4 separate regions of the Homo sapiens genome follow, and all the other regions are linked to region 3. Evidence: fine-mapped expression QTL. A gene starts in region 3. Each other region holds a variant in brackets. All regions are shown on one strand. Distances are from middle to middle. Region 1 overlaps SPC25 (SPC25 component of NDC80 kinetochore complex). Region 2 holds the start of G6PC2 (glucose-6-phosphatase catalytic subunit 2). Region 3 holds the start of NOSTRIN (nitric oxide synthase trafficking). Region 4 overlaps NOSTRIN (nitric oxide synthase trafficking).

What was found. PIP is the estimated chance that this variant, and not a neighbour inherited with it, causes the effect.
Region 1: its variant is the best candidate, but not a certain one, in a credible set for the expression of NOSTRIN in lymphoblastoid cells (GTEx, PIP 0.89).
Region 2: its variant is the best candidate, but not a certain one, in a credible set for the expression of NOSTRIN in pancreatic islets (PISA, PIP 0.72).
Region 4: its variant is the best candidate, but not a certain one, in a credible set for the expression of NOSTRIN in subcutaneous fat (TwinsUK, PIP 0.56).

The regions. Positions count from the first base shown.
Region 1 is chr2:168,878,466-168,886,465 of GRCh38, forward strand. The region is part of intron 3 of SPC25 (SPC25 component of NDC80 kinetochore complex); the gene reads right to left. Among named protein-coding and RNA genes, the nearest start is that of SPC25, 8.0 kb to the right of the region's middle. The variant G/A (reference allele first, on the strand shown) is at 3,975.
Region 2 is chr2:168,897,857-168,906,003 of GRCh38, forward strand. G6PC2 (glucose-6-phosphatase catalytic subunit 2) reads left to right here and starts at 3,435. Exons shown (of 5, transcript NM_021176.3): 1 at 3,435-3,693; 2 at 4,589-4,698; 3 at 6,649-6,760. The coding sequence starts at 3,476. The variant T/TG (reference allele first, on the strand shown) is at 3,886.
Region 3 is chr2:168,797,764-168,805,910 of GRCh38, forward strand. NOSTRIN (nitric oxide synthase trafficking) reads left to right here and starts at 4,874. Exons shown (of 16, transcript NM_001039724.4): 1 at 4,874-4,910. The coding sequence starts at 4,884. RefSeq lists enhancers at 696-990, 4,318-4,817.
Region 4 is chr2:168,856,711-168,864,857 of GRCh38, forward strand. It overlaps NOSTRIN (nitric oxide synthase trafficking), which reads left to right. Exons shown (of 16, transcript NM_001039724.4): 12 at 1-68; 13 at 2,802-2,927; 14 at 4,085-4,199; 15 at 5,250-5,339; 16 at 8,124-8,147. It also overlaps a transcript of SPC25 not described here. Among named protein-coding and RNA genes, the nearest start is that of SPC25, 30 kb to the right of the region's middle. The variant T/C (reference allele first, on the strand shown) is at 4,321.

The DNA.
Region 1 (8,000 bases), 81 kb after region 3:
ATATATATTTGGCATTTCCAAAAGGAATAAAATAGATGCCAGTTAGCACTGTTATTTAATATTTCCCTAGAAGTTTCTGGCCAAGACAAGATATTTAGCTGGTAAAACTATAAGGAAAAAACAAGAACTATTTTTCATTATATGTAGACAATAGACATCTATCTAGAATACTCAGAAAAATCTACTGAAAACCTATCAGAATTTGTGGTACTACACCCCAAAAAAATCAATAGTTTTTGTACATAACACCAGTGATTAATACATAGGTAAGAATAGATGTTTATACTAATATTAATAGCTGCAATATTCGTTTTTGTTCTTTGTTTTTATTGGTTTTATTAGTTTTTGCTATTCTGTGCTATTTTTAAGTACTGGCATACGTTGGAGATATTGCAAGTTCTATTCCAGATCACTGTGATAAAGCGAATATTGCCATAAAGCAAGTCACACAAATGTTTTGGTTTCCCAGTACATAGAAAAGTTATTTTACACTATATTGTAGTCTATTAAGCGTGCAATAGCATTATGGCTAAAAAACAAATGTACATATCTTAATTAAAAATATTTTATTGCTAAAATATGCTAATAATCATCTGAGCCTTCAGCAAGTCCTAAACTTTTGCAGGGGGAGGGTCTTGCCTTGATGTTGATGGCTGCTGACTGATCAGAGTGGTAGCTGCTGAAGGTTGGGGTGGCTGTGGCAATTTATTATAATAGGACAACAATAAAGTTTGCTGCATTAATCAACTCTTTCATGAAAGATTTCTCTGCAGCATACAATGATGTTTGACAGCATTTACCCCTGGTAGAACTGTTTTCAAAATTGGAGTCAGTCTTCTCAAACCCTGCGCTACTTTATCAACTAAGTTTATATAATAGTCTAAATCCTTTGTTGTCAGTTAAACAATGTTCACAGCATCTTCACCAGGAGTGGATTCCATTCCATAAAACCACTTTCTTTGCTTATCCATAAGAAGCAACTCCTTATCCATTCAAGTTTTATCTGAGATGGCAGCAATTCGGTCACATCTTCAGGCTCCACTTCTAAATCTAGGTCTCTTGTGATTTCTACCACATCTGTAGTTACTTTCTCCATTGAAGTCTTGAACCTCTCAAAGTCATCCATGAGGGTTAAAATCAACTTCTTCCAAGCTCTTGTTCATGTTGATATTTTGACCTCTTCCTGTGAATCACGAATGTTCTATGGCATCTAGAATGGTGAATCCTTTCTCTGGAAGGTTTTCAATTTATTTTGCCCAGATCTATCAGAGTTAATCACTATTTGGGTAGCTATAACCTTATTTCTTAAATAATGAGACATGAAAGTCAAAACTACCCCTTGATCCATGGGCTGCAGAATGGATGTTGTCTTAGTAGGCATGAAAACAACACTAATCTCCATCAGCGCTCTTGAGTGACCAGATGCACTGTTAATGAGCAGAAATATTTTGAAAGCCATCTTTTTTCCTGAGTAGAAGGCCTCAACAGTGGGCCTAAAATATTCAGTAAACTATGCTATACACACATGTGCTGTCATCTAGGCTTTGCTATTCCATTTATAGAACATAGGCAGAGTAGATTTAGTATAATTCTTAAGGGCCCTAGGATTTGGGGAATGGCAAGTGAGCACAGGCTTCAACTTAAAGTCACCAGGTGCATTAGTCACTAAAGAGTCAGCCTGTCTTTGAAGCTTCAAAGCAGGCCTTGACTTCTCTCTAGCTATGAAAGTCCTAGATGGCATCTTCTTCCAATAGAAAACTGCTTTTTCATCTACATCAAAAATCCGTTCTTTAATGATCTGTTCATTCAATGATCTTAGCTAGATAACTTGCTGTAGCTTCTACATTAGCACTTCTGCTTCATCTTGCATTTTTATTTTATGGAGGCAGCTGCTTTCCTTAAACCTCAAGAACCAACTTCTGCTAGCTTCAAACTTTTCTTCTGAAACTTCCTCATCTTTCTCAAGCCTTCACAGAATTGAAGAGGGCTAGAGTCTTACCCTGAATTAGGCTTTTGCTTAAGGGAATGTTGTGGTTTGTTTGCTCTTCTATTAAGGCCACTAAAATTTTCTCTAACAATAAGGCTGTTTCTCTTTCTTATCATTCGTGTGTTCACTGAATTAGCACTTTTGCTAATTGGCGCAAGAGGCCAAGCTTTCAGCCTATCTCAGCTTTTGACACACTTTCCCACTAAGCTTAATCATTTCTAGCTTTTGATTTAAAGTGAGAGACCTATGACTCCTTCTTTCAGTTGAACAATTAGAGGTCACTATAGGGTTATTAATTGGCCTAATTTCAATACTGGAGACTAGGGAGGCCCAAGGAGAGGAAGAATGACAGGAATGGCTGGTCAGCAGAGCAGTCAGAAGTCATTCAACATTTATCCATTAAGTTTGTCATCTTATATGGGTGTCATTCATGGCACTTAAAACAATTACAATAGTAACGTCAAAGATCACTGATCATAGAGCACCACAAGAAATATAATAATGACAAGTTTGAAATCTTGTGAGAATTACCAACATGTGACAGATACGAAGTCACCACATGCTGATGGAAAAATGGTGCCCACAGACTTGCTTGACACATGGTTGCCATTAACCTTTAATTTGTAAAAATTGCAATATCTGTAAAGTGCAATAAAGTGAAGTGCAATAAAACAAGGTATCCATGTACCAAAATACTGGCCTTTTACATCTGTCTCACATATTGGCCAGCACCTCATTACTCCTTCTTGGCTTTAATCTCTCTACCTTCCCTGCCTTCCCCATGTCCCTGTCACTCTCTGTACAAGTTCTTCTTGCCCTAGCCCTCTTAAACACTCAGCTTCTGCAACTACCCACCCCTTTCTCACACACATGCTCAAAATAAAAACAACAATGCCTGTGCATAAACCTGGCCAAACCTCTCTGCTGGGAAAGGAGTAACCCTGGCAGGACCACTTCTTCCTCTGTTTGTTGGAAGAAAGATACAACCGCTGCTACTTGGGGCCCATTGCACAGAGATGGTGTCCCCAAAATGCCAATCAGGGGGCTAGACAAAGCAGGAAGGCACAAAAAGCATAAGAGCTCTAGGGCAGAGGCTACTGAGGTCAAATAAGCAGAGCCAGTAGAGCTCAAGTGGTGCTTTATAATGTGCTTATGAATTTCTGAATTAAAGATTTAGTTTTACTAATACTTAAATGAAATCTAAACACTTTAAAATCGAATGCCAATTAATGCCAGTAGTCTAGAATTGTATCAAATAAACCAAACTATCTATACTGTCATTTAATTCCAGTATCATAATTACAAGTAAATATGTGCTCCAAGGATGAGTAATCTTTTTCTCAAAGTTAAACAAGTTAGTCCATCACTGAATTTATGAAGACTTTAAATACCATAAATCTTCAAAAGAGAAATACACTATGATATGTTTCCCAAATTGAAGTGAGCATGGAATTCTCAGTGCTTGAACAACATCTCTCAAGACAAGCATTCCTCAGGCAACAGGAAAATCTCGTTTACAGAGGTAACAAACAGAAAATTCAGAATCAACCTAGATCAAGAAATATGTAGGCTCTGTTTGAAAAAAACTGCAAAGCTTGTCTGAGACACATATTTGATCTGGATATATGAAGAGATATTTTATGCTTCTAAATATTATAAAAGATATGCCAAACAAACGTTGGCAGTTAGGAAGTTAATATGATAAATGAAATATCAAATCAATGTTCAAGAGGTAGATTATTCTCTAAACAGTGCCGAAATCCAAAATAAATTCTTTAGTCTTTTACTACTTTTTTAAAAGAAGAGGAAAAACACTCAGCAGTTCAGTAACTTGCCCAAAGCTGTATTTGCTAGGCTAAAATAAATAATAAGGGCCAGGCATGGCGGCTCACGCCTGTAATCCCTGCACTTTGCAACGCTCAGGCTGGCGGATCATGAGGTCAGGAGATCGAGACCATCCTGGCCAACATGGTGAAACCTCGTCTCT[G/A]CTAAAAATACAAAAATGAGCTGGGCGTGGTGGCGTGTGCCTGTAATTCCAGCTACTAGGGAGGCTGAGGCAGAATAGCTTGAACCAGGGAGTCGGAGGTTGCAGTGAGCTGCGATCACGCCACTGCACTCCAGCCTGGTGACAGGGCGAGACCCTGTCTCAAAAATAAATAAATAAATAAATAAACAGACAGACAGACTGCATTCAAACTCAGGTCTTGACTTCAAAGGCAATGCTTTGCCCATTAAATTATCCTCCTCCAACAATGGGTTACCATTTTAATCTCAAGAGGAAGACACAAATACAAATTCCTAAGAAAAAAACAGACAAAGGGATAAACAGATGAAACACAGAATGCAGATGGCTAATAAATATGAAAGATAATTTAACCTCAGATTAATCACAGAAATGCAAGTAAAACAGTAAGATTTCAATTTTCATTTATTACAACAATGTTTACAGAAATAATTACTAATATTGAGAGGAATGCAAAATGCTAGGGTCCTTCTAGAAAATATTTTTGACATTGTAAAATAAAAGAGCCTTAAAAATATTTACCTCCTTTGACCCAGCAATTTCATTTTTACAAAGTTACCCTAGGGAAATAGGATACGTGCAAATATTTATATATAAAAATTATTTTTCAGTATTTATAATGAAAAACTGAAAACATCTTCAATGGCTAACAAGCAAATGATTTTTAAAATATGGTATATCGATAAGATGGAATGTATTTTCAAAACAATTTAGCAATGTGGGAAAATATTCTCAAAGTTGAAAAAAAAAGATAGTTATATAGATACCATGAATATAATTACGTTAAAAACCTACATAGCTCATGAAAAACAAAAGCTAGAAAGTTGTTTTGTTAAATATGGTTCTCAACATTACAGGTGATATTTTTTGCTTTTCTGTATGTTCTAAGAATATGAACATGATCATATATTACGTCAAGTATAATTTAAAAATAAACATCTTACTAGAAAGAAAAATGCTACTATTTAAAGAAAAAAATTAAGTAGAATTGTACTACACAAGAAATTCAGATTGAAAGTCAAAGGTCTCAAGTCTGATTCAGCTTATCAGTTCTTACCCAAAGATCTCGGTCAAAATCACGACTTCTGAAACTCTTTTGCTCATTTGTAAAATGGGGATAACATTGGCTACCTCATTCACTGGGGTTAGAGTATCCAGTAATAATAATACAAAAACTTTTAAACTAGTGACACATAAATACCACATATGAGAGTGTTTTTATTATAACATTTGAAGAACTGTGTGATTTGTGGCCAATACAAATATAGGAGTCCTCGATGCTGTATGACCATTTTTTTTTCTTTTTTTTTTTTTGAGATGGAGTCTCGCTCTGTCGCCAGGCTGCAGTGCAGTGGTGCAATCTCAGCTCACTGCAACCTCCGCCTCCTGGGTTCAAGCAATTCTCCTGCTTCAGCCCCCTGAGCAGACAGGACTACAGGCACTCACCACCACGCCCAGCTAATTTTTATATTTTTAGTGGAGATGGGGTTTCACCATGTTGGCCAGGATGGTCTTGATCTTTTGACCTCGTGATCCGCCTGCCTCGGCCTCCCAAATTGCTAGGACTACAGGTGTGAGCCACTGCACCTGGCCTGCTGTGTGACTATTATTACATGTGTACATAGCAGGCTGTCTTATTCCCAGGACCGACATTTCAAACTTTCACTCCTACACACCAGAGGAACCCTTCTTTGCATTTTCACTCCAATGCACGTCAGTATAGCACAATGGAAAGAGCACAGACACTATCATTGTGATCCTAGATCCTCTATTTACCTTAGGCAAGTTTCTTAACCTCAGTGAGCTTCAATTTCCTCATCTGTAAAACAGGGATAATCTCTGTCTTAGACAGACTTCAGGATTTATAATAATGTAAAAGCCTGCCCATAGTAAATACCTCTCACTTTCAATAGATGATCTTCCTTCTTGTGATAATTAGAATTTATGGCTCCAGAACTTTAGGCTATTTTGTTCTCTGCAGTATCTTCCTAGAAGATTACCTGGTATACAGCAGTAGCTCAACAAGTATTTGGTCAGTGAATGAATTCCTTCCATCTTTCTTGTTCCCAAAATATCTATCTCAATCTTTACCTTACTGGATCTACCTGTGACTTACAGTGTTAACAACACCCTTTATTATTTCTCTCCTCTTTTAGTTTTGGTGACCTTCTCTCTTACTTCCTCTGTTCTCCAATTACGAATTCTGTCTTTCCTGGTCGTTTCCATTTAACTCTCTCAAATTGGAGAGGAAATGTAATGCTCTGAAGATGAGTAAGGCTTCTGGAGTTAATCTGATGATCTGGGGCAAATCATAATCTCTCTGGGACTGCAATATCAGAAAAGTAGGAATAATAATAATAAATGATACCAACCCTGGAGAACTATCATGAGGACTGAAGGAGGTGGTCAATGTAAGGCATTTAGCACAGTACCTGGCACACAGTAATGAGTAAATAAATATTATTACTAACCAAGGCTACCTTCTTTCACTCTACATATTCTTCCACAGCTTCAACCCCCTAAATACACTAAAGACTCACAAATCCCTATCTTCAGCAAAGACCACTTTTCTGGCTGGCTTCCAGATGAATATATCCATTGCCTATCAGATATCGCCACCTGAAGACTTGCTGCACAATAAACTCAGCATATTCACCCAACATGTTTAAAATTGAACCCACATATGTTTCCTTCCCACCTATAAAAACATGCTCCTCCTCTCTTTCAATCCCTCACTTAGTAAATGCATCACCACTGATTCATACTCCATGTCAGAAGGAATCATCCTAGACCACAGCATACTCTCACCTTCAGGCCCACAGTCTTGAGTCTAACTCTTCAGACCTGTCACTGGTCCAAGCCATACTCATTATGTGCCTGTACTATTACACTAAATTTTTCCTTTAACTGGTCTCTTTATGGACAACAATCTCACTCCCCTCCTGTTTATTGTGCATGATTACTAGATTGCTTCTTCTGGCATATAAATCCAATATCATTTTCCAGGTTGAAATCCTGTAGCAACTCTTTATCTCCTGAAAAACAAAGTCTAACCCCCTTTGCACAACATGGAATGTCCATCATCTGGCCAACGAGTTCTTCCAGCCACTTCTCCACCACTCCCCATCCACAGGGTACTCTAGCCATCCCAGAACTTAACAAGCTCTCATGTTCCTGCCATATTCCATGTGCTGTTCCCTCTTCCCAGAATGTAATGCTGACTCTGTTGAACATCCCTAACCCTCCTTTATGTGATTTTCTCCAAAGTAGTGTGGTATAATCAGACCGCAGGTTCAAATCATATTTCTGTTCATTATCAGCTATCTGACCTTGAGAAAGTTGCTTAACCTCTCTGTGCTTATTTTGTCATAAAAAAGCAGTATCTATACCTCTTAGGGTTGTTGTGAGGATTCATGAGTCAATATATGCAAAGAGCTTAGAACAGGGCTTAGCACATGGTATACAAGGTAATGGTTAGCTATTAAATATCCTGCATTCCTCACTGGAAGAACCAAACCCTCCAGATTCTATCCTCACACAGCATCTATTACATTATTCTAACAACGAATACAATCTTTTTTTTTTTTTTTTTTTTGGAGACAGGGTCTCACTCTGTCGCCCAGGCTGGAGTGAAGTGGCATGATCACGGCTCACTGTAACCTCAATCTCCTGGGCTCAAGCGATCCTCCTGTCTCAGCCTCCTGAGTAGCTGGGACTACAGGTGCCCACCACCACACCTGGCTAATTTTTCCTTAATTTTTATTGAGACAAGGTCTCACTATATTGCCCAGGCTGGTCTTGAACTCCTGGACTCAGGCAATCCTCCTGCCTCAGCCTCCCAAAGTGCTGGGATTACTTTGGCTTGAGCCATCGAGCCTGGAACAATATATTTTAATTGTGGTTTCCCTATCTATATCCCCCACAATATTGTGAGTAGATTATACTTTATGCACTGTTGTCTCCTTAGTGGTGGGCAATAGCAGTCATATG
Region 2 (8,147 bases), 100 kb after region 3:
ATATATGTGTATATATGTGTGTGTATATATGTTATATATGTATATATAATTGTATATATACATATATGCACACACACACAAAGGGCTAATATATGTATATATACATATACACACATCTGCATACATATTTATATATGTATGTACACACACACACATATACACATACAAATATATTAGCCCTTTCTAGAATACACATTATATATATTTTCTCCACCTTAAATACACTTTCTTGACATTGCCACTATATAACATGATCTCTGTGGAGAAATGCATTTTGAGTTTGCACTAACCAAATAACATAGTTTTAAAACACAGGCTCTTTATAATTTAGTACTCATATCAACTTTGTTCAATAATTCATTCACTCAATAAACATTTACTAAATAACTATGATGGGCCCAGGGGCAGTTCCAGGTTTTGTGAAATCTAAAGCCCCTGTTAAATGGCTTTATATAGGCCCCTCTATAAAGCCCCTGTTATATAGGCCCTCTCTTTAATAAAAAGAAAATAAACTCGTGAATGCACTCTAAACTATCAGTAACCACCTGCCTTTTTTTTTTGACAGAGTCTCACTCTGTAGACCAGGCTGGAGTGCAGTGGCACGATCTTGGCTCACTGCAACCTCTACCTCCCGGGTTTCAAGCGATTCTCCTGCCTCAGCCTCCCGAGTAGCTGGGACTACAGTAGCCCACCACAATGCCCAGCTAATTTTTGTATTTTTTTTTTAGTAGAGATGGTGTTTTACCATGTTGGCCAGGCTGGTCTTAAACTCCTGACCTCAAGTGATCCGCCCACCTCGGCCTCCCAAAGTGCTGGGATTACAGGCGTGAGCCACTGCGCCCGGCCCAACCTACCATCTTAGGCGCCCGTGCGAACTTTTCCAGCTTCATGGGTAATTGGCTTCTACACGGGCCTGTTATGGGAACTGTGCTTGTGGCTGTTGCACAAAGTGGACAGGACCCCTTGTTTTATGGAGCTTATACTGTAGTACAGGAGAGAGATGCTAAATATATACACTTGTCATAAATATATAATTATAAATTGTGTTTAACTCCCGGTTATGGGCTGAACTGTATTCCCTCAAATTCATGTTGAAGTCCTAAGCCCCAGTACCTCCCAAAATGACTGTGTTTGGTGATAGGGTCTTTAAAGGGGTGATTAAGTTAAAATGAGGTCATTAGTATCTTCCTTAATCCAATAAGACTGGTATCCTTATAAAAAGAGGAGATTAGAACACACCCATATAGCGGGGAAGACCATGTGAAGACATAGAGAGTAGACAGTCATCTGCAAGCCAAGGACAGAGGCTCAGAAGAAATCAACGCCACCGACGCGTTGATTCAGACTCCTAGTTTCCTATATTTCTGTTGTGTAAGCCACCCAGTCTGGTATTTTGTTATAGCAGCCCTAGCAGACTCAAACAACCCCCTAGGAGAAAAGAGTGTGTGAGAGAAAGTATTGTCAGAGGAGTGGTGAGGATGCTGGTCAGAGAAGGCATCACCGATGGATGCATAGAAGCTAAGATATGAAAAGACTAAAAATGATGAACTACGAGGAATAAGCAGATTAGCAGATGCTGTTAAAGGGTGAAAGAAATCAAGATGCTTTTGCTTCACTTAATTATCCCACAGTCTACAGAACCAGGTAGTTCTCGAGAGAAAATCTTTCTAAATTAACTACCATAGATGAAAGGCTAATCACAGACTCTGAGGTGCTGAAGAGCAGGAAGTTTAATTTTTAAGTGGAAGACAAAATGTATTTGATATCATTCACATCCTGATTTAAGGATAAGACATTTCTGAAGAAAATGAGTATTATGAATTACGTAGATCAAACACTTTTTAGAAAAAGAATAAAGGGAAGTTATGCTCTTCCTCATGGCTCATTAAAGAGATTATGGAAATTACAGAACCTGAATATGCAAAACAAAGAAAAGCCAGAAGCATAGACTCTAATTAGTCAAGGATAATTCCTTATATGAATTGCCTTAGTGCAATGATTCTAAGCCCCTTATACCACATTGGAACCACTTGAGAAGTATTTTAATAATACCAATGCCCAAATTCCATTACCAGAAATATAACTGATCTCAGGTGGAACACAGTTATGGCAATTTAAAAAGCACCCCAAAAGATGTTAATGGTCAGTCAATGCATTTCTTCCAGGTAAGGTACCAATAGACACTGAAGCCCAGTAACAATGGTGCTGTTAAATGATGGGACACAAAACTCGAAGAGAAGTTCAAAGTGATAGTTATAGCCTGTGAAGGACTCTAGTGAAGTCTTTTGTCTTTACTTAGGCCATGGTAAGCAAAGACAAAAATCTGAATGACAAAATAACAAGTAAGGTTACCTAGATCCATCCCTGGCCACCTTGTGAGGCTTTGTTGCTTTCCCACTAATCCTAGACACAATCCAGCTCTCTAAACCCAACATCTCTCTGACTTAGATCCATAGCCTCTTTGTGCTACCCTTCTGTTCATTCTCAGTCTACCCTGGTCCATAGTCCAGGGTCCAGTCGTAGTCTATAGTCCAGGACCAGAGTCCTGGTCTATAGTCTAGTCATAGTCCACAGCCGTAGATTATGGACCTATGACTTAGATCCACAGCCTCTTTGCGCTACCCTTCTGTTCATTCTTAGCATTTGTTTGGTGCTTTCCACTTCTGTTTAACACTCTGTTCTCAACAAACCATTTTCCTGATTGGTCAAAAGCCCTTTGATGTCTATTCCTATCTTTGTCACATGAATCATTCCCTATTCCTCTCAACTGTATTCTCTAGTTAATAAAAGATACAATTTGATCCTAACACATTTCTATTATCCAAATGACTTTCATTTCTGCTTTCTTGTCTTATAGTCAAAAAACAACACATTTCTTTCCCTGTTCCATATATATTCTATCATTCTCTTGGATAAAGAAAATTGAACTATTCTTATTTTAAATCAGTGATCAGAACATAATCTGTCATATCATATATTTTTCATACCCAGATATTTATTCAACCATTTTCCTCAAAGACCCAATAAAATAGAGAGCCACAGCCTATCTTAAATTAAAATGCAGGGCTTTATGGGCTATTTGACATGCAATAATTATTTGCAAAGTCTTTTCACCAAACATAGAAATTGCTAATGTCTGACCTTGGAGGAAATGAACTGTACAAAAAATTTCAAGCAAACATGATCCAACTGTTCGCACAAAAGGGAGGTTGCATAAGAAATTCATTGTGTTTCTATCCAAATTTCCCCCTCGAATTGCCACAGATCAGCATGTACTTCACTCTTTGCCACCAATTAAAATCATAAATAGATGAGCTATTCAGCAGAGGAGGGCTGGTGTGCCCTCTCCACAGATGGTCAGCATCACATGTTGCAGTAATGGCTCGACATGCCACAAAGGCACAGTATAAAAACGGTGGGAATCAGAGCACTTCAGCTCCAATTGCTCTATGTTTAGAATTGCCTCTTTTTCAAGATGGATTTCCTTCACAGGAATGGAGTGCTCATAATTCAGCATTTGCAGAAGGACTACCGAGCTTACTACACTTTTCTAAATTTTATGTCCAATGTTGGAGACCCCAGGAATATCTTTTTCATTTATTTTCCACTTTGTTTTCAATTTAATCAGACAGTTGGAACCAAGATGATATGGGTAGCAGTCATTGGGGATTGGTTAAATCTTATATTTAAATGGTAAGATTTCTGTTTTATTTCATTTTTTCCTAAGATTTATCCTTAAATTTGTGACTTCGGCATAATGATCACATTTCAGATGTATATCGTTTTACTTGGAAAATCTTTCAAAAATACCAGGTAACTTGAAACACCAGATTCATAAGTAGAACTTTTAAAAGGCACAGAAATGTATATATATGTTTTTGTTTT[T/TG]TTTTTTTTTTTGAGACAGAGTTTTGCCCTTGTTGCCCAGGATGGAGTGCAATGGCGTGATCTCGGCTCACTGCAACCTCTGCCTCCCAGGTTCAAGCAATTCTCTCACCTCAGCCTCCCGAGTAGCTGGGATTACAGGCATGTGCCACCACACCCAGCTAATTTTGTATTTTTAGTAGAGACAGGGTTTCTCTATGTTGGTCAGGCTGGTCTCTAACTCCCGACCTCAGGTGATCCACCGACTTCGGCTTCCTAAAGTGCTGGGATTACAGGTGTGAGCCACCACGCCAGGCCAGAAATGTGTACTTTAATGACTTATAAGTAATTCCCAAACCCCTGTAACACATATTCTGTGATTAAGAATTACTTACATGAGCAGCGTGATAATGAACAAATTGATAATTCTAGGGACAAATTTTGATATTTCCAGTCTAAGTATCCAAAGCACCCATAAGACATTCCCTGCAAGGGAAAAAAGCCCCCATGTTCATGGGAAACCAGGGTGCCAAAATACCAAATGGCTACCACCTTTAATAATGTGTGAGAGACCAAGACCTAAGTTTTTTCAAAGTCTCTTAATCATGAACTTTCACAATTAACCCTGCGCTTGAGTCATTTTTTATAGGAAAGAATTGCTAATCTCCAATTAAATAATAGCTGTGTATTTAAATATATATGCATGTTTATAATTCTTTAAATACAGGATATTATTTGGTCATCGACCTTACTGGTGGGTCCAAGAAACTCAGATTTACCCAAATCACTCAAGTCCATGCCTTGAACAGTTCCCTACTACATGTGAAACAGGTCCAGGTAAGCTATTACAGCAGGCTCCAGTTACTGAAGATCTTCCAATAGAGAATCATTACACAGGGTTATCATCTAGGAACTGATATTATATAGGGTAGTAAAGAAAATCTCATGAGTGAGGATGCTAAAACTTCATAACAATCAAAATTACTAATGAGGAAGCAAAGCAAAAAAAATACTCAAATTCCATTTTGTTATTTATGAAAGGGTAGATTGGGAGAAAACTCCCCCAGTGATTAAATATTTGGTGTTTACTTTTCAGAAGAATATAATGACTTGATACTAAAACAAGAAACAGTTAACTAGAACAAATTCTCAAGGAACTAGACTAAGATCTTAGAAATGTTGGTTAATCTGCTGCTAAGCAACTTTCAAAGTTACTATAGGTCTTCCGAGTATCTCACGAATGAGGGAGGAGTAGACAAGTCTTCTGTAAGAAAGGTAAGGACTTCTCAATGTTACTATAGCCAGTAAAGACTATTTCTAACCCTAGAACAATCTCTTTAAAACATATTTTTTCTCTGTACACAAGTAGGCTTCTTGGGCCACTTCTTTTTTATTCTAGGTAAGATTCTGTATGAGTATAAAATCTTTATTGTGATAGTTGATTCTAAGACTGTTTTAAAAAGTTTTTTGAAACATATATTTAAAAATTACATTTTAATTTATAAGAATGTGTTATATTGTACCTCATCATTTTACATAGCATAACATTCTCGCCAGTTGACATCCTTCGAAACTAACTTTGAGTAAAGGGTAGTAGAGAATGTGTAAATTCTTAATGAGTGTTCTGAATATGTCTTTTTTGTTCCCATAGAAGTATACATACATCTGTTATATCGCTTATTACACTAAATGATATTAACTAATTCTTTATATATCCGATTGCCTAGACTGGGTGTTCCATCAGGGGAGGGATGATGCATAGTTTATCTTTGTGAAACCAAAGTGTGATAAATGGATGAATGGTTGGATGGGTAACATTTGAGACCACCGAAATGTTATCGTGGTCAATTCCAGTCCTTTCCGGCATGTGTTCCACCTTATAAGACATTTTCTGGAAAGAGAGAGAGAGAAAAGAAAGAAAGACTGCATCTCTCGGGGAGATTTACAATTTTTTAAGGCATAGTTTTTAAAAGGCTCTGAAAATTCCTGCAGATAAGAAATAGGTCTGTCTTTGTTTAACAAATAAGAGACTGGTATTTAATTTGAATGAACTACCAGGTGAAAAATCGAGGAGGACATTTAAGGAAACTAATAAAAAATTCAGTAGCATGGAAAAGGCATTCTGGAAGTAGAAAGGCTTTTTCTGCTAGGATTAATGCCGTCTTTATAGCTTCTCCTCATCCTCTGTTTTAAAACAAAGATTCTCACTGCAGTGGCCACAAGATAGGCATAGAAGTAGCTGCTAGTACACAGCAGTCATTTGTAAGTCAATCAGCAAATCACTGGCATAGCAATGATATCCTTTAGAGTTTGACTTCTCAGCCCAAGGAAAATAAGCCAACTGAAGATCCAATACAAGCATTAGGGTGGTGCAAAAGTAATTGCGGTTTTTGCCATTACTTTCAATGGCAAAAACCGCAATTACTCTTGCATTAACCTAATACTTTTGCTTGTCAATTAAAAACAACCAAATATTGAAGAATGAGTAGGGCTGTGGCAGATTTGGGTGCAACTGCCTGAGTTCTTAATTAGCCTTGAGTATATTGATTTCTGGAATTCAATGAACCTGAAAATCTGGGAAAAAAATTTTTTGAGACAGTGTTTCTCAGGCTCAATTTAACTCAATTTTTCTTATTTCTACCCACTTCTAAACATTACATATAGCCTGTGTCTTGTCTTTTTTTCTGAGTTACTCATAATTTTCATGGGGAATATGCTATTCTATTATTCATTTCTGATCTTGATAGTTAACCACTTTTCAAATGGACGGACACTTTGTTGTTGCAGGAAGTCCATCTGGCCATGCAATGGGCGCATCCTGTGTCTGGTATGTCATGGTAACCGCTGCCCTGAGCCACACTGTCTGTGGGATGGATAAGTTCTCTATCACTCTGCACAGGTCAGCTTTGCTGCAGTTTCTGTAGCACTGGAATATGACAGTTTTTAATACAGAAAGTCTTGTCTAAAAATTAATTTTAGTGCAGTTTTAGTCAATGAATAAAATGTGCTTATTCTATTCTTTCATAGACAAAATAACAAAATGAATAGAAAACTAATATTTTGCTTTAAGATAATAGCCTAATTAGCTCATAGCTATTTCCACTTTTCAAGTTGGAAATGTTTAACTGATTAATGACTTGCTAAATGTGCCTCTGGGTTTCCAAAATGCAATAATTATTTTGATAACTCATAAATAAGTCGTCTAAAATTATACAGCATAAGGAAACATTTTTGCATGCACATTCCCTTGCTTTAAAATTAACTGGAAGTTTTGAGAATCATCATTCTCCTTGACTGCATCAGTTTATTCAGTAAAATTATGCTTCCTTCTTCGAATAGCCAATGCTTTTGATTTCAGTAACATATATTCCAGCTTTATAGAGAGCACAAACTTTTTAATTAAAAACATTCTGGAAGCAAACTTAAATTTGAATGTTAGTAGATTTAATGTTAGTAGGTTTCTTAATGTTTAGAAAGATCTAGAACTTAAAGGTTACTCACAGTTGCTTAGAAATTGGGTTGTTTCCTTCTCTTCTTTCCTGAAATACTTTGTCATTAAAACAATCCTGAGTACCAATTTAGCCATAAATTAGGTGACTTGAAATTAGATTTGCAAGTTAACCTTAAAAAAATACTGTAACATATGCCATTATTAAAAAGTTTTCTAAAATAAAAAAAGTCAAGATCTATCACATATTCCACTTGTTAGAGTAGTATTGGATAATATAAAAAACAAACAACTAAAGGAATTTGGGTGTCTTAAAAGTTTATTCTAATGAGACTGTGACCTGTATGCCTTAATGTATTTATTGCCCAACCCAAAACAACAACATAAAAAGGTGCTATAATGTAAAAAAGTTAGCATTTTCTATTTACAGACAATTTTCAAAGTAGGAATCTAGGTCAGTTTCACCTTTTCTCTATACTGTATTCCTGCCTCCAATGACCAAACCTGAAAAAATATGTTTCTTCTAAGAAAAAAATTCTCATAACTCCTTTTTAGTTTTTATAACTGCAGTATTTTCTTCATCTATAAAATTTTACTGAGTGTGTGCTTCTTACCTTTACATTACCAAATTCTTGTTTATTCTTCTTCCACATTGGTATCCCACTTACTTCTTCTTTCAAAGCCTCATTTCTCTGTGTTCCTTAGCATTTATATAACCAAATTTCAGTCTGATTATCAGGAACAAACCATTCAAGGATTCCTAGAACTCAATACTGCTAACACTTTTTTTTTTCAATGACATGCATTGCTTGGATTTTAATATTTTTTTATGTTTTTT
Region 3 (8,147 bases):
GTTCAGGAGTTTGAGACAAGCTTGGGCAACATGGTGAGACCCTGTCTCTACCTTGTGCCTCTGTTGCCCTGTGGGTATTATAAGGATCAAAATAATACATATCTACCTCAAATGATAACTGTGATGATTAAATAAGTTAATAAGTCATCCCGCAGTATCCATGGGGCATTGGTTTCAGGATACCCCCTCATATCAAAATCCAAAGATATTCAAGTCCCTTATATAAAATAGTGTCATATTTGCATATAACCTACACACATCCTCCCATGTACTTTAAATCATCTCTAGGTAACTCATAATACCTAATGCTATGTAAACGTTATATAAATAGTCATAAATACTTATTTGTATTTTTATTGTTATTTTTAAAATTATTATTTTCAATCTACAGATGCAGAACCCAGGGATATGGAGAGCCAATTGTATTTGTAAAACACTTAGAATGGTGCCTGACACGTGGTATGTCCTTTAAATGTGGGCTCATATTACCATAAAGTATTTAACTAGGTCTCAATTGATGATGTTCATGCTGTTGCCAATTCTTTGCACGCTTTGGCTACTAAAGAAACTTCCAAGGCAAGTTTTGAATTGCCATGAGCTTCTATTACATTTGGGCTCCTTTTTCTTACTAGCTTACCAACACCCAATATTTGTTTGTGAATACTTCATAAATGCGTACTCATGTTGTTAACTCCCCTTAGAGGCAGCACAAAATGTCAAAGTTGGAGTCCAGCAGAGCAGCTTCCAGGCCAGACCCTGGAAGGGAATCCGTTGCAGGTTTTCTTTCTGCAGAGAGGCCATACCAGGAAGGCACATGCTGAGCAGAGACTGAGAAAGAAAGCAGGAAGATTAGGATAGGAGAGGTCAGACAGTAAATCTAACCGGAAGCCAGGCTGGAAAGCAGCCAGAGTATGAGTGCGGGTCAGAAATGTAGGACCAGAGACGAATCTGAGAACAGAGAACTCAAAAGGACTCTTTGTGCATTAAAATTTTCAGAAAGTGTGAATGGCATACCTTCTTGGAGGAGATGCTTCGATCGATCGATCGATCGATAGATAGATAGACAGACAGACAGACAGACAGAAGATAGTTCTTGAGAGAAGAAAAATGGCTTAGAGCAGTCTGAGCTATATGAGGTATGCAAAATTTATCAGGCCCAGAGAGGGGAGTATGGGGCTCAAGTCTTGCTCTGCCTCCTTGAACCCACACCTAGAAGCAATCATGTAAAGGCATCTTGTTCCTGACTAGCTGCCTCATCTGCTATCTTTATGGTCCTGGAATTTGTGATTCACAGAACAGTGTAGAGCCAATCAACAGCTTGTGTTATTTTCATGGAAATTCTTGGCAAACAACTCAGGAGCTTCCTCTTCCTCTTCTTTTCCTTTGAAAACCTACTTGTACCTGCTGCTAACCAGAGCGTATACTCAGGGCCACTTGAAACTATGCTCTTGGGTTGCAGCCCTCAAGCTTGGCCCAAGTAAATGCTCTACTTATATTAAGTTGGCCTCAGTTGTTCTTTCCTTTAGGTTCACATTCTCATCAACCTGTAGGTACAAATGAGGTTGTTAATATTAATTCCAAAACTACAAGATTCTTTGCTCCTCTTACTCACATGGGAACTCAGTCTCCTCCTCCCAAAGTCCCCTTGGGCCATTTTTGGGGACTGGAGGAATTCTCACATGCTCGGGGACAAATGTGCTCACTGTGGTCTGCTCTATCCTTCTCATCAAGATGCCTCACCTACCTGAGCCTCAGTGGCTGAAGACAACTTAGCAGGTTCTCCCTGCTGCTGCCTCCTCACAACCCATATCCAGGAGAGGTGCTTTTTGCTGTGCTCCTTAGCAGAGTATGTGTAGGGTGGAATGTGGGGTCAGAGGAGAGAACAGCCCTTATCCGTCTAGAGTCTTTTATGATTTAGGTCCTCTTATTTCTCTTCCTAACGCCAGTCTGCTGAGGTTCAAAACGTGTCACCCCAGGCTGGATTGGGGAGAGGGAAAGAAAGACATATACCAGCCACCTGCTCCTTGTCCTTGCTGCTTTATCTCTAGTCATTCAAGAACAAATATTAAGCAGCCATTGTAGTAAATTGAATGGAAAACTAACTCCAATTGTCTGCCCCTCTCTGTCTCTATGCCCTTTGCAATGGGACACTAAGTTCCTCCTATTATGAAGTGGAAGCTCTCCTCACCCCTTTAATCTGGGCTGGCCCATGACTGGCTTTGATCAGCTGGATGTGGCTGAAATGATGGGATGTCCATATTAAGCTGTACCTCCAGAGGCCTCGAGCTCTTCCACTCACTCTTGTGGCTCCTCTGCCATACCCTGAGAAGAGCCTGGTTAGACTACCAGCTGATGAAATACGGCCTCAGCCAACAGCTAGCTCCCAGCCAGCCCCCTGCCCAGAAAAGCCCAGATGCATGGCTCTGCCAAGCCCTGTGTAGATGACCTGCTTTTACATGAGTGAGGTCAGGGGACACCTGAAGATCCATCCAGCTAAACTACAGATTTGTGAACCAAATAAAGTCTCTGTCATTTGAAGCCACTGGGTTTCTGTTTGTTACACAGCATTATTGTGACAAAGGATAAACGATACCAACCTATTTCTGACCTCCAAAATCAAGGCTTTTTGCACATTCAAACATTCCTCCGAGAAGCTCAACAAATAGCCAAGTTCTAATTCTCAGTCTGGATTCAGCTGGGATGCCCTGCTGCCCTTACAACGGCCCAGTGGCAGACAGGAGCAAGATGGAAGGATTTTAATTCAGCAGATGTCCAGGAGGTCTGAGGGAAAGCTAGTCAGCCCACTGGGAATGGCACACATGAGGAGTTTGGGGATAGGAGTGCCCTACCAATCTATAATTCGTATACAAAGATCACAGTAGGCTTTGTGTGACAGCACTTCTTATGGAAACTGGCAAGGGAGGCCAATTTCCTCAGTTTGGACTCAGTTGGGACTGAAATGAAACACAGAACAGCAAGAAAAATGGGGCAGGAATCACAGAGAAAACATTGAGCTGTCCCAAGTCCTGGAATGGTGGCTCCGGACAAGTTTATCTAAAATCTCTGAGGGCAGAGAAGCCCCCTCAAGTGGGAATTTGAGTTACATGTTATTAACCTCAGTCTATATCCTGTCTCTAAATTTCTTTTAAAAAAAAAACAAAAAAAGAGATGGGGTGTTGCTATGTTGACCAGGCTGGTCTCGAACTCCTGGCCTCAAGCAGTCTTCCCATCTCAGCCTCCCAAAGTGCTAAGATTACAGGTGTGTGCCACTGTGCCTTACCTAAATTTCTTTTATTATACAGAGTTGCTTTGTCTAATTCTAGCCCTGTGGTAGCTACCCAAGATTGTTGTAACCTCCAGTGATCAAGTTCTTTGGATAAGCAAAGAGGGAGGGCATTAAGTGTGTGGAAAAGACCCCTCCTCTCCACTCTTGTTGCAAGGCAAGTTCTTTTCCTTAATTGTCCCCTGACTCTTCTACGTTGTTTCTGGAAGCTTTTTTTTTTTTTTTTTAGAAGTAGAGTCTCACTCTATTGCCCAGCTTTGAACCCCTAGACCCAAGAAATCCTTCTGCCTCAACCTCTTGAGTAGCTGGGACTACAGGCACATACCACCACATCCTAATTAAAAAAAAAAAATTATAGAGATAGGAATCTCCTGCTATATTGCCCAGGCTGCTCTCAAACTCCTGGCCTCAAGTGACCCTCTAGGCTCGGCCTCCCAAAGTGCTTGGATTACATGCATGAGCCACTGCAACTGGCTTATTTCTAGGGACTTTGAATGGAGCCTGCACACCAGGGGCAGGTGAATGGAGGCTGAGTCAGCCAGTCAGGTGAAAACTGAATGCTTTTAAACTCTGAAGTGTTCCACTGGACTGTGTTGATGGAGCTCCTTTCAAACTGGGGCCTGCCCTTGCCTGCCAGTCAAACAGAACTGTCCACAGTCTAGCAAATGGCTGTCGTACATCAATAGGCCATTCATTGGAAATCTAATGATTGGCAACTGGGACCACAGGTACAGGGAATGCAATAGAACTCAAGCTGTGGTTGAGTTCTTGTTCTGTCTATCCTTTTGAGTGATGAAAAATGAGGCCAGATCTAGGCAATTTTTTCTTTACATTGAAAGCTTAGCCTCTTGATCCTGTTGGGGCTGGAGCGAGTGTGGAGTTAGGCTCAGAGAAGTGGTTAATGTACGCTTTGCTCCTGATAGCTGTTTCTGAACATTCTATAGTTATAGTTCTATAGGTGTAGGTTCCTAGTTGTTTGGTGTCTGGCCCTGTGGGATTTAGGGGGTGGGGGAATATGGGCTTGGTATTTGAGAACTGGGTAACAGAGATGGTGGGGAGGTTTGGGCTCTGGATTTGTTGGTTTGCATATTAAAGGAGTGCTCACAGGCCAGTTGTTTGCTCTCTCTAGGAATTAGCTAACCCTCAGAGAGGCAGTCTGTCTCCAAGTCCATGAGGTCCCCAAAGGTCAAAGCATCATACAATACAGAAAATAAAAAGCATGATTAATACTGCAGGCTGAGAGGATATGTGTTCCTGCACTGTCAGACCAAGCGCAAGAATTGTTGGAGACATGTTACAGCTTCTCTGCCTTCTCTCAATGTTACGCTGTTCAGGACTCAGGATCCTGCCCTCTGAGGGTTTACAGAAGTCATTCTCACTATCTCACACTGGCCGTCTTGACCCAGAGCAGTTCTTTACTTTCTCGGGACACAAACGGGATGAAAGTCCAGGGCTGGGACTTCCTCCTTGGAATGTTTGACAAGGACTGACGTACTCTAGGCCCTTTGAATCCCGGAAGTCCAGGACACACCCAACCTTGATTACAGTGTCCAGAATGCTGGAGCGTAGGTGAAAGGACAAAAGCCAGACACATTTCAACATGAGGGACCCACTGACAGATTGTCCGGTGAGTAGCTCAGTGTGGTTTGTGTGCCTGCGTGTGAGGAGGGTGGAGGGTGGATTTGTATATTAATGGATTTTAACTTAAGAAATTTGAGACACTCAGAAACCAAACACATTTAGATATTGGCTGTGGTGCAAAAGTTTGTGGTTTTTCTTTGGTTCAGTTTAAAAACAGAGCTTTTTCTAGGAAATGACAGGGCAGGTAATTGTCATCTTTCCTTCTCATATTCTTGGAAAAAGTTTTGAGAGAGTAAAGCCTCATATTTGGATCCAGATGGTGGCTGTTTGGAAAACATTCTTAAGACATACACCCATGGTGCCAACATCATGTGTGGTGTGGATACAAAAACACACAGAATGTCTGCAGCCAATTTTTGGCTCTGAGAATAAAGTGAGGGAGGAGAGTTTTTGTGCCTTTTCACCCTCATTTTTTGGAGTCAAGGATCACAAGTCCTGCAGGAGGAAGGATAGACTCCCCACTCTGCCTGGCCTGCAGTGGCTCTCAGACTGGTTTAGCAGCATGTTTGTTCCATGTTTGTTCGTTTTGGTAATGTTTGGAGCACTACCAAAAATATAAGTTTGGTCAGAAGTCCAAAGACATTGTGAGGTCTCCGGCGGCAATAGCAGAGATGTAATTTAGGAGATAAGAAGCAACTAAAATAAAGGGGGGGATATGTTTACTTTGAAAATAAAGTAATTAAGGAGGGTCAGTGTTTTATCCCAACACATGGGGCTGAAAAGCTAAGATTGGTGACATCATAAGCAGGAGGTTGCAGTCATCCTTCATGTATTGATAACACAAACTGTGGGGCGGCAGATAAATGGGCGCTGAGATAAAGTCATAAAGAAAAAGATCAGCAGAGGATTATTGATTTCCTTTTTGTTTATTCAATGGATAAGAAAAGCACATGGTTGGAAAAAATGGAACTATAGTTACTATTGCAGAAAATCAGATGAGCTAAATGAGATGAACTCATAAATGACTAGTAATTTTAATAATGACAACATAGTAGCCAATTCTGCCTAATTTTCCTTTTTTTAAATACAGAAATAATTTGTGCTTAATGTAGAAACAAATTCCAATGATATGGTTATATATAGATTTTTAAGAGTGAAACTTCCCCCTTTAATTACTTCAATCTCAGTGTTCTCTCCATTGTTAATTGTGAATAATTTTTAAGAAGTCTTTTATCATTTATTTTTCTCTCCTTGAGGTTGCTCCCTGACTAAACTGTTAAATCCTCTCCTGTCTCAACACTCCTACCTCAATGTTTTTGTATAGGGGCGGCAGGCCAGGACAGGGATGGGGTAAGTGGCAGCAAAATCTTGGCACTAATAGTAACCAAAGAAGAAAATTAACACCAGGGAAGGGTGCAATGGACAGAAGACAGGGAAATGGTGGGCAGCTTTAATTAAGTTTAAAAAGAGAAGAAGAAATAAATCCATAAAAAAGAAACTGAAGGTCTAACATCCTTTTTGTAGACAGCAAAGTCAAGTCTTCAGACGTGGAGAAATGTTTTCTTTCAGCAGCCCCCAAGGCAACCCATAACCACACTTCTGTGTCTGCTTAAAGCTCCACTCCCTGGCATGCTGAATAGTTCCTTGTGCTATGCTGGGCCAAGGACTCCTGTCCTTGTCTAAAACTTTGAAGGTCATCTGTATGGGCTCATTGCCACCAAAAGTATCCGGGAGTCATGGGGAGGGCGGATATCCCTTCAGCCTGGGTTTCCAAACCCTCTAAACTCACAGAACATTTATTTATTTGCAATTGTTTCATCTTAATCAAGTGTTCAAGTTGATTTCCTGGCACATTCTTAGCTTGTACTTGGGGAACAATGCTATGTGAAGATGAATCTGCGGTTTGGGAACAAAATAAGACAAGGAAATGGATTGCAAATGAGTGCCTCATGAAACATTTAGGTAGTTTTATAAAAGAACCCAAAGCTTTAACCACCTGCAAAATGTCCCCTTCCATGAGTCCCTAGAGTTGCACAGAGCACAGTTCATAAAGTATTAGCTTAGCTACTGTTCTTAACCGGGCCCACACCAATGTACCCATGTATGGAACTCAGTGGGTTGCATGAACTTCAGTGAAAAAAAATCTCTATTTGTACTAATTTCTAACTGAAATTTAGAATTTTATTCAATCCAGAATATAGGCAACAAGCCCCAATACTATTAGTCATATCTGTATAGTGTCTGTGACTTTGTAACCAATAAAAATCAGAAATTTTATGATAACATTACAGTTGTTGCACATATCTAGAAATATTTACATTCACCCTGACTTCAAAATGTTGGTAATACTTAAGATATGTAATTTAGTATGTTAATAAAAAAGCACATAATATCATAATTTTAAAAATACATTCTAAAAAATATATAATTCATTTCCTTTTTAACCCTACGCTACTTAAAAATGTTATTCTGAATCAAATAGGTTTCATGAGACTACAAAAAGGGCTCATGGTACGAAAAAATTTAAAAATCTCTTTTAGATCAAGCTCTAATGGGCAAAATAGACTGACAGCTGGGCCTTTCAACCTCAAAGAGCAAGGTCAGTGTTTGAGTTCAAATTGTTGCCAGGGTGGCATAAGATTGCCTAAATGCTGTGTAGGATTAATCTTGAGAGTGTCAGAACTTATTTGAAAAAGATATCTGTAAGATATCTTTAAAGTTCTGTTTTTGACAAGGAAAAGAATTGGCTCTGGGCCTTGATGTTTCATTGCCTATGAAGGTTTAGGTTTAGCTCTTAAACCTAAAAATATGTCTAGGGAACTCATCTTCAAATCCATGTGCAAGAAAGGCGAAGTAAGATCCAATTATCTCTAAGGGAAAGAATCCAATCATAAGAAAGTATTAATAGCACCTTCCTATCAAACAATCACATAGAAATCAAGGACAAGTAACAAGCTGTAGCCAAATTTTTGCTTTTTACACACTCATACAGTATCCAGGAAGGGGTCTGTCAAAGCAAGTCTTCTGGGCGCCACACAGTCAGCCCCTCCCCGCATGTCATCGGCCATTGAAATGGCACCAGGCTGCTCCTCAGGTTGGTAACCTGGCTCAGATGCCAACCTGAGCTTCCCATCTTGGTGGCTTAGCCTGGATATCAGACAATGACTGTCACTAACTCAGATGGTGCCGGTGCCATGGTCCGTAGCTCCTAGGAGAATCTGACTCGCTGCAAAAATACAGAAGGAGGCTGCATATGGCATGGGTGTCACGTGGCCCACAGCCT
Region 4 (8,147 bases), 59 kb after region 3:
CGTACTCCAGCACCTCCTCCTTCTCTGATGCAAAGAGCCAGAAAGACACAGCAGCGTTAATGGATGAGGTAAATGTTTGCCGAGTGCATTTCCTAGATGTAGTGATGAAAAGGGTTATTTTTAGAATACTTGTTTCTGGTCCACTTGGCCTTGTTTGCCTTTCCTTTCTCATGACATAGAACAATCTAGTGGGGGAGCTTATAGGGTCAGCTTCATAAGTCATTTGAGGGATCTGGAAAAATACAACTACCTAGAAATGTTTGCTTTGGTGTCCTAGGAAAAGAATTGTGTCTAAAATAGTATTCTCCAAACAGAGTCGTTCTTTAAGGGCCTAGAAACCATGTGCACTTTAACCCAGTTAAGAAAAGCGACAGGAAACAAAGGATCTGCATTCAGAAAGGCCTGTATTTAGATTTAGCTCTGCTGTTTACAGGGACCTGGGTCAACTTTAGTTTTCTCATCCGCAAAATGGGGATATTGGTACTTTACCTCATGGGGCTTTTGTGAGGGTGAAATATTATTTAGTAAATACCAGCACAATGCTCACAGGAGGAGCTCAAAAACTAGTAATTTTTATTAAGGTGGTATTTTCCATTCATCCCTCTGCTGATCTCAGGGTTATCGGAGAATAACAGGGGAAAGGAAAGACGTGGTTGCAGAGGGAATAGGGCAGTCTGGTGTGTGAGGCAAAATCTGGGGAAACCAGGAGCAACTTTGAGGGCAAAGTTCTTTAAGGGTGGGAATTGGGGTGGGGAGATGGTAGAAGAGGCAGGGAGGTGGGCCTCCTGGCCTTTGTGCTGAGTGTGTGAACTCTAGCCCCATAGACATTCGTGGGGATTGATGGACATTTTGGCCACTTCAGAGGAAGGGAAAGGGATAGTTAACAAAAAGCTGATGAATTTTACACAGGAATAAAAATGAACAGATATATAGCACCAGTGTGCAACATATGGGTTTCTGCTGTGATTAGAGATCATGAGTGGACTGGGGTTAATCTGAGAATCATTTAAGGAGATAAATTTTTTAGCAATGTTTTGAAGGTACAGGAATCTGGGCGTTTTGTTTTTCTTGCTTATAGCCTAACTTTCTTGTGAAGGTAGGTACTTGATAATTGTACCCAGATTGGCAATTTCAATAGTTCTTTGGTGAAAGAAGACAGATGCAGTGAGGTATCGCTGACCTAGTTTTTAGATAGGCTTTCTTGAGTAAGGTGCTGTTGCAGAAACAAGCCTAACACTTCTTGTAAAAGAAAATAGCCTGCATTGTGTGCACTGGGTAACAGAGGTCTAACATACCTGCAATGACCCGTGGCTACAGTTTTTATGAAATTATAAAACAGACTGTAGGACATTTTCTGTGACCGCACAAGCTGTTTAGTTAACTACTGATGCCATTGGGTTATACATCTATTCCTTTGGCTGTCCTTGCACAGAATTTTGTCATTGTCATTACCAGCATACATGTATTAGGATCATCTGGGTCCTCTCACCTGAAGCACACAGTGGAGGACACAAGGAGGGAGAGCATCTGACCTTGGAACTTCCAATGTTTATGATCTGGTGAAGGAGCAACTATGAACCTTTAAGTGAGGAATGCCAAATATCCACATGATTTCATTACGCATGCTCTGCATCTGGGTAGACAGAAACTAGTGATACTGGTAGATTTTGTGTCACCCACGGAAGGTTTCTAGGATGAGGAAACTTTTATTTACATTCTTCCTTATTTCATTATATCTTGGTCCTTGAAGTGCCATGTTTGAATCAAGAATGTTCACAAGCAGTGTCATAAGAAAAATTGTTGAGAAAACTGGAGGCACTTAGATTAAATACTGTCTTTAGAGACCAGAAAGAGGGCCACATAGAAGAAGAACTAGATGTGCTCTATGAGACTATCAAGTGAAGGTCTAATGGTAGAAAGCATGGGGGAGCTTTTAGTTTTGTCTTAGGTAAGCCTGCCCCACAATGCAGTGGATTCCTCCAACGATTAGAGACTTTCTCCATCAATTGGATGTCTTCTGTCCATGGCTGTGACACCCTGGCAGGGATATTAGGGTTGGGAATTCCCATGCTGGAGGTGTGGGGGAGAGAGGGATAATGGTGAGGAGGGGGCTGGATAAGCAAGACCCTTCCAATGCTTAGATTCTGTTATTTAATTCACCCTGGCTGGACCCAGCCTGACAAGGTAATTATAAAGTTTCTAGTTCAAGGTCATATCAAGAACAGACAGAGACTAGGAGTGTATCTTTAGCTTGACTTATTATGTTTATACTCAAATGCCCTAAAATATTGTTCCCAGTTTCCAGAAGTATTCCTGTAAACTTTGTGGGTAATATAAGACCTCACCTTATCAAAGAACAAACAAACCTCACATTCAATTTCATTTGCGTCTATTGATGTTAATTCAATTCTGTTCACAATATTTAGCACTGATGGCTCACCTTCTTCGCAGACCACCAAAAATCTACCTTCTACAATCAACACTTATCCCCTTTCTTGTCCCTCAGCAGAAAATTGAGTAAAACCTCTTCATTGCCATAAAATACTAATATATTACCAAGGTTTCCTGTTCACCCCCAGAGTACAGAATGAGACACACTCAACAACTAAAACCTCCCTCTAAACTGCTTAAAGAGTTTATTCCTCCATTTTTTTTTCCTTCGGCATTTTCTGTGAATATCTGTATGAGTTAAATGCGTACTTTTCTAACCTTTGTTATTTTGAAAGTTATTCTGATATTCCTATCCAGTTGTGCCTCATTTACTAGAAATTTGCTCACATGGCCAAATGATGTATCCACAGAACAATTTGAAACTAGACCTTTTGGAAGCGAACTCCTACAAACTGTCATCAATGTTAGCAGAACTTGAGCAAAGACCTCAACCCAGCCATCCTTGTAGTAATTCCATCTTCAGGTGGAGGGAAAAGGTAACATTTAAGGAGACTGGTTGTAATTTCTTGATTGGGCCTGCTGGGTGGAGTGGCTTAAAGTAGCATCAGGGCAAAAAAGGTGTTAGGAATTCTATGTGATATTAATATTCATGCAGTTAGTTAAGAAGATAAATGTTTTTATTTTTCTTTTGAGCACAATAACAAGAGCTAGACAAAACCGAATACATTCTGTGTACACCAAACTTCTATGAGAAGCTAAAAAACACTTTTGATTTCTTCTTTCTCATCATACCTGAATTTCATCCTTTGGATGTGCTTTTACAGTAAAATTTCTATTAAATTGAAATTTTAATATTCGTTCAGACCTAAATTATAAGATTTTGTGGTATGTATTAGTCTCATCTGTTTAAGATGGTGCCTAATGCAGATAATGCATCAGTACAGCTCTGAAATGCTTGTAGCTATTTTTATTACTGATCAGAAGGGGGAACTGTAATCATCTTGTGAAGGGACAGTTTTCTAAGGCTCAAGAGCTCGAAAACAATCTCAATCATTTACAGGGTTGTGATCATTTCACTTGCATTAAGCCAACTAAAGTTGTATTTGTAAAAGTAATGCTATGAATATTACTATTTGACCTAGACACATAGGTTAGAATTGGAAACACAGGCTATAAAGTATAGTAATTGTGTAATTGTGAAAATATTAAGGCTTCAACTCAAAACTGAAACACAGTAGGGCTTAGAAATCTTTGAATTATTTATACCCCTCAGTTTAAAAACTTCCAGTCCAGGCGCAGTGGCTCATGCCTGTAATCCCAGAACTTTGGGAGGCCAAGGCAGGCGGATCACCTGAGGTCAGGAGTTCGAGAGCAGCCTGGCTGACACGGTGAAACCCCGTCTCTACTAAGAATACAAAAATTAGCCAGGCATGGTGGTGGGCACCTGTAATCCCAGCTACGGGGGAGGCTGAGGCAGGAGAATCACTTGAACCCGGGAGGTGGAGGTTGTAGTGGGCCAAGATCATGCCACTGCACTCCAGCCTGGGTGACAGGGCAAGACTCTGTCTAAAAAAAAAAAAGAAAAAACAAACAGAAAAAACAACTTGAGGAAAACAGCTACAGAAGAGTTAATTTTCATGAATGTTTATGATAATCGTGTTACAAAATATGACTTTTTATGTCATTTGAACAGGAGCATACTCATAGCTATGTGAAAATATCTCGGCCTTTTTTAATGAAGAGATTAGAGAATATTGTGAGCAAGGCATCTTCTGGTGGGCAGAGCAATCCAGGTTCTTCAACTCCAGGTAATCCCATGCCCACAATCATTTTGGCCTGGGTCCTACTGGCAGGGCACATTGCTACATTTAAATTTTAGTTTCAGAGCCACTTTGACCTGTATCTGTTTAAGGAAATTTATATTTCCAT[T/C]GGGACCGATTAATTTGTTAGACTCTGTAGCTTTATGTAAAAATGGGAAAAAGTTAAGAAGAGTAGAGGGTTGGGAAAGTATCCTATGAGAAGTTGCCTCAGATATCAGATGACTGGCATCCACCTTATTCAAATGGCCTGTTATTTGCCATAAACATAATCACACCTAAACCATCGTGAGGAGCTTTGTCGCTCTGTCTCCATAGCCTCCTCCAAACTCCCATAAGAAGCCTGTCCTCTCTGCGAGACACATGGTGATCCAGGTGGTTTGCCAGGGCTTGGACTCATGGCCTACAAACTCCTGTTAGCAGCCATCTGACTTCAGTCATTCATGCACCCACACACCACACTGCTCTTCATCTTTCAGCACACACACACGTGTCACTGTACCTGCATGTTCAAGTATAATTACCATAATCTTGACTATCTAGTTTTTTAAATTAGAAATTGGTTTAAAAAAAAAAAAAAGAACTTCAGTAAAACCAGGACATTATGGTTCACACAATATATTAAGGAGTCACTGTTGCATTGTTTGAGAAACAGTTCCATACACAGCTAGGGATGATGATAACATGCACATGCCCCAAATATCCCGTATTTATACCTGAATGGCAAAACTGGTGAATGTTTTCCAAAACATGCATGCAATTACTATTATTATACAATGATGTTTTTCTCTAGACTTGCTATTTCATGTATTATAATATAGTTTTTGGTTATATAACATATGCAGTCCATACATATAGAAAGTGCATCATAAGTGGTTATTGAATCAAGGAATGAACATTATATAAAATTACAAACTTTCCTTTTGAGAAAAATTTAATATATTGAAACTCTGCATCACACTGTTAAATAACCAAAGAGCTTCAGCTCATATTCATTTGCCTGCTAACACAGCATACTAATTACAGCTTTATCTATTTCAGCCCCTGGTGCAGCCCAGCTCAGCAGCAGACTTTGCAAGGCCTTGTATTCTTTTCAAGCCAGGCAAGATGATGAGTTGAATTTGGAAAAGGGTAAGAATCATTCTCAAATATTTTAATTGCCTTCCCATATTGAGATTCTTAGCATGAATAAAACCCTGTCTTAGTGTGGCAGCCTTAAGAGTTACTACCATGTCAAATCAGTTCACCCTTCTTGAAAGATAAGCACATCTAAAACAAAAGCTCGCATAATGATAATAGCTAACGCTTATTCTGTTTACTGTGTGTCAGACATTGTTGCAGGCCTATTGTCCAATTTAATATTCATGAAACCCTTGGAGGGTTTTATTGGTATTCCCATTTCATAGCAGAGGAGACTGATACACAGGAAGGTTAGGTGCTTTGGCTAATGTCACAGGCTGTGGCAACACAAGATTTGAACTTGGAAACACAGTCATGCTCCTAATCACAGTGCACACTAGGGTAGAATGTCAGTGATGGAAAGTGATTAGAGATGTACCCCACCTTTTTATTTTTTAGAAGCTAGACATTCAGGAATGTGAAGTGACCTCCTCTCTCAACTTAGTGTAAGTAAGTGCAAATTCTAGAACCTAGGTCAGCTGACTCCCAGCTTAGTGCTGGTCTCACTTACTTCTCAGAAAAGCTTTTTACAGCCAGTCTAAAGAGTGAGATCCCCTTCTTTGTGTCACAGAGTTTTACTTAACATGGAAAGGTATTACGTAGTGGCTTTATAATGTAAACCACAACATTATTAAAGAAGAAAGTCTCCAGCCTCAACCTTCTTTATGTGTCCAGTTAGAAACCATGTTTGAATGTTAGCGCTAATGCAGAGATCTGGAAACGGAAGGGTTAGTGAGAAAGAGTAACGTTATGGGAGAAAGAATATTATCCACGACAAGGACATGGCTCCCAGAGCCAATGGAAAATCAAGATACATTTTGTAGCCAAACGACAGGGACACCACACATTTGCTATTTATTGGGTGTTTCCTTTGCAGCATTTGCCAGTCATATCTCTCCAGGCAATTACTTTTCTTCCTATGTGAATAAAAGACAGACATACTTCCCAGATGCCACCTAGAACCCATGGATGCAGCATTTAAGTTACATCATTCACAATAAATTGATTATCTTGTTTTCAGTTCTCTGTTGGTTGCAAAGCCTACTTATACTTTATATTCTAAGCAGTTTCTTTAAATGAAACACGACGTTGGAGCCTTAGGGAAGCTGGCAATACAATTTGAAATCATTATTTGTTTGAATTCTTGTTAATAGATTATGTCAATTTACTGACGAGGGAGAACTTAGAGACCGAGAATAATGTCCTTTAAGAATAGTGATTTATGACTAAGAAAATGTAGAAAAGATAGAAAAGGAGTTAATAATTTCCTTTGTCTTAGAAAGAAAGTTGCTGAGGAAAAGAGTGAAAGGAAGACTGAAAAATCACCTCAGAATGATGCCAAATAAAAAGTAGCTCTTGGATCCTGACGGGGGCAGATGATCCTGAAGGGGGCAGATCTTTCTACTTTTATGACAAGAGCCATGTTTCTTGTCCAATTCTCTATGGAATTCTCTTTATTTGAATCATTGCTTTAAAAAATATTGTCTCCAAATTGATGTTGTATTAAAGTTGTCTAAGTTGTTGAATGGGGAGTTACATTTTGAATGGGGAGTTACATTTCTGTGCAAAGCTGTGAGTGAGTTAAACTTTTGGCCTGTGAAATCAGGGATAATGCAGAGACATTGTCTTGATCTTAAGAAAAGACTGTTGGTGAGACATACTTATAGCAGCCAACACGCCAAACAATCAAAAACACCAGCATGTGAAACCCTCAAAGTACGGACACCAAGAAAGAGTTTGGTGACAATCCATCAGCTACATAGAAATAGAAAGTGAGCCAGGCAGCATAAGGATATATGATCCAACGTGATCTTTTTTTATTTTTTTTTTTGAGGCAGAGTCTTGCTCTGTCACCCAGGCTGCAGTACAGTGGTGTGATCTTAGCTCACTGCAACCTCCGTCTCCTGGATTCAAGTGATTCTCCTGCCTCAGTCTCCCAAGCTCACTGCAACCTCCGTCTCCTGGATTCAAGTGATTCTCCTGCCTCAGTCTCCCAAATAGCTGGGACTACAGGCGTGTGCCACCATGCCTGGCTAATTTTTGTATTTTTAGTAGAGACGGGGTTTCACCATGTTGGCCAGGCTGGTCTCAACCTCTTGACCTCAAGTAATCTGCCTAATCTGCCCATCGCGGCCTCCCAACGTGCTGGGATTACAGCTGTCAGCCACCGTGCCTGGCTGTGATCCTGTTTTTTTTTTTCTGAGACAGAGTCTTGCCCTGTTGCTGTTGCCCAGGCTAGAGTGCAGTGGCATGATCTCAGCTCACTGCAACCTCTGCCTCCCGGGTTCAAGGATTCTCCTGCCTCAGCCTCCTGAGTAGCTGGTATTACAGGCGTGCGCCACCACACCCAGCTAATTTTTGTATTTTTAGCAGAGAAGGGGTTTCACCATGTTGGTCAGGCTGGTCTCGAAACTCCTGACCTTGTGATCCACCCACCTTGGCCTCCCAAAGTGCTGGGATTACAGGCGTCACCCACCACGCCCAGCCAATCCTGTCTTTAAGCAATTATTTTATGATATATCTCAGTTGTTCATTATCTTACTCTTTTTAGTATCCTCTGGATTATGCCTGCTTTATACACAGGTGTTCGATACATTTGGCTTCATCTGAATCAAGTGCAGAAAATGACACTACCAAGTAAATCCTTGAAGCAGAACCTCCTTAAAACTCTTATCAATCGGGCTGAGGCATGTGTTCACATCACAGAGACCCATTTGTCTAACTGTATTTTCACAGGTGACATTGTGATTATACACGAGA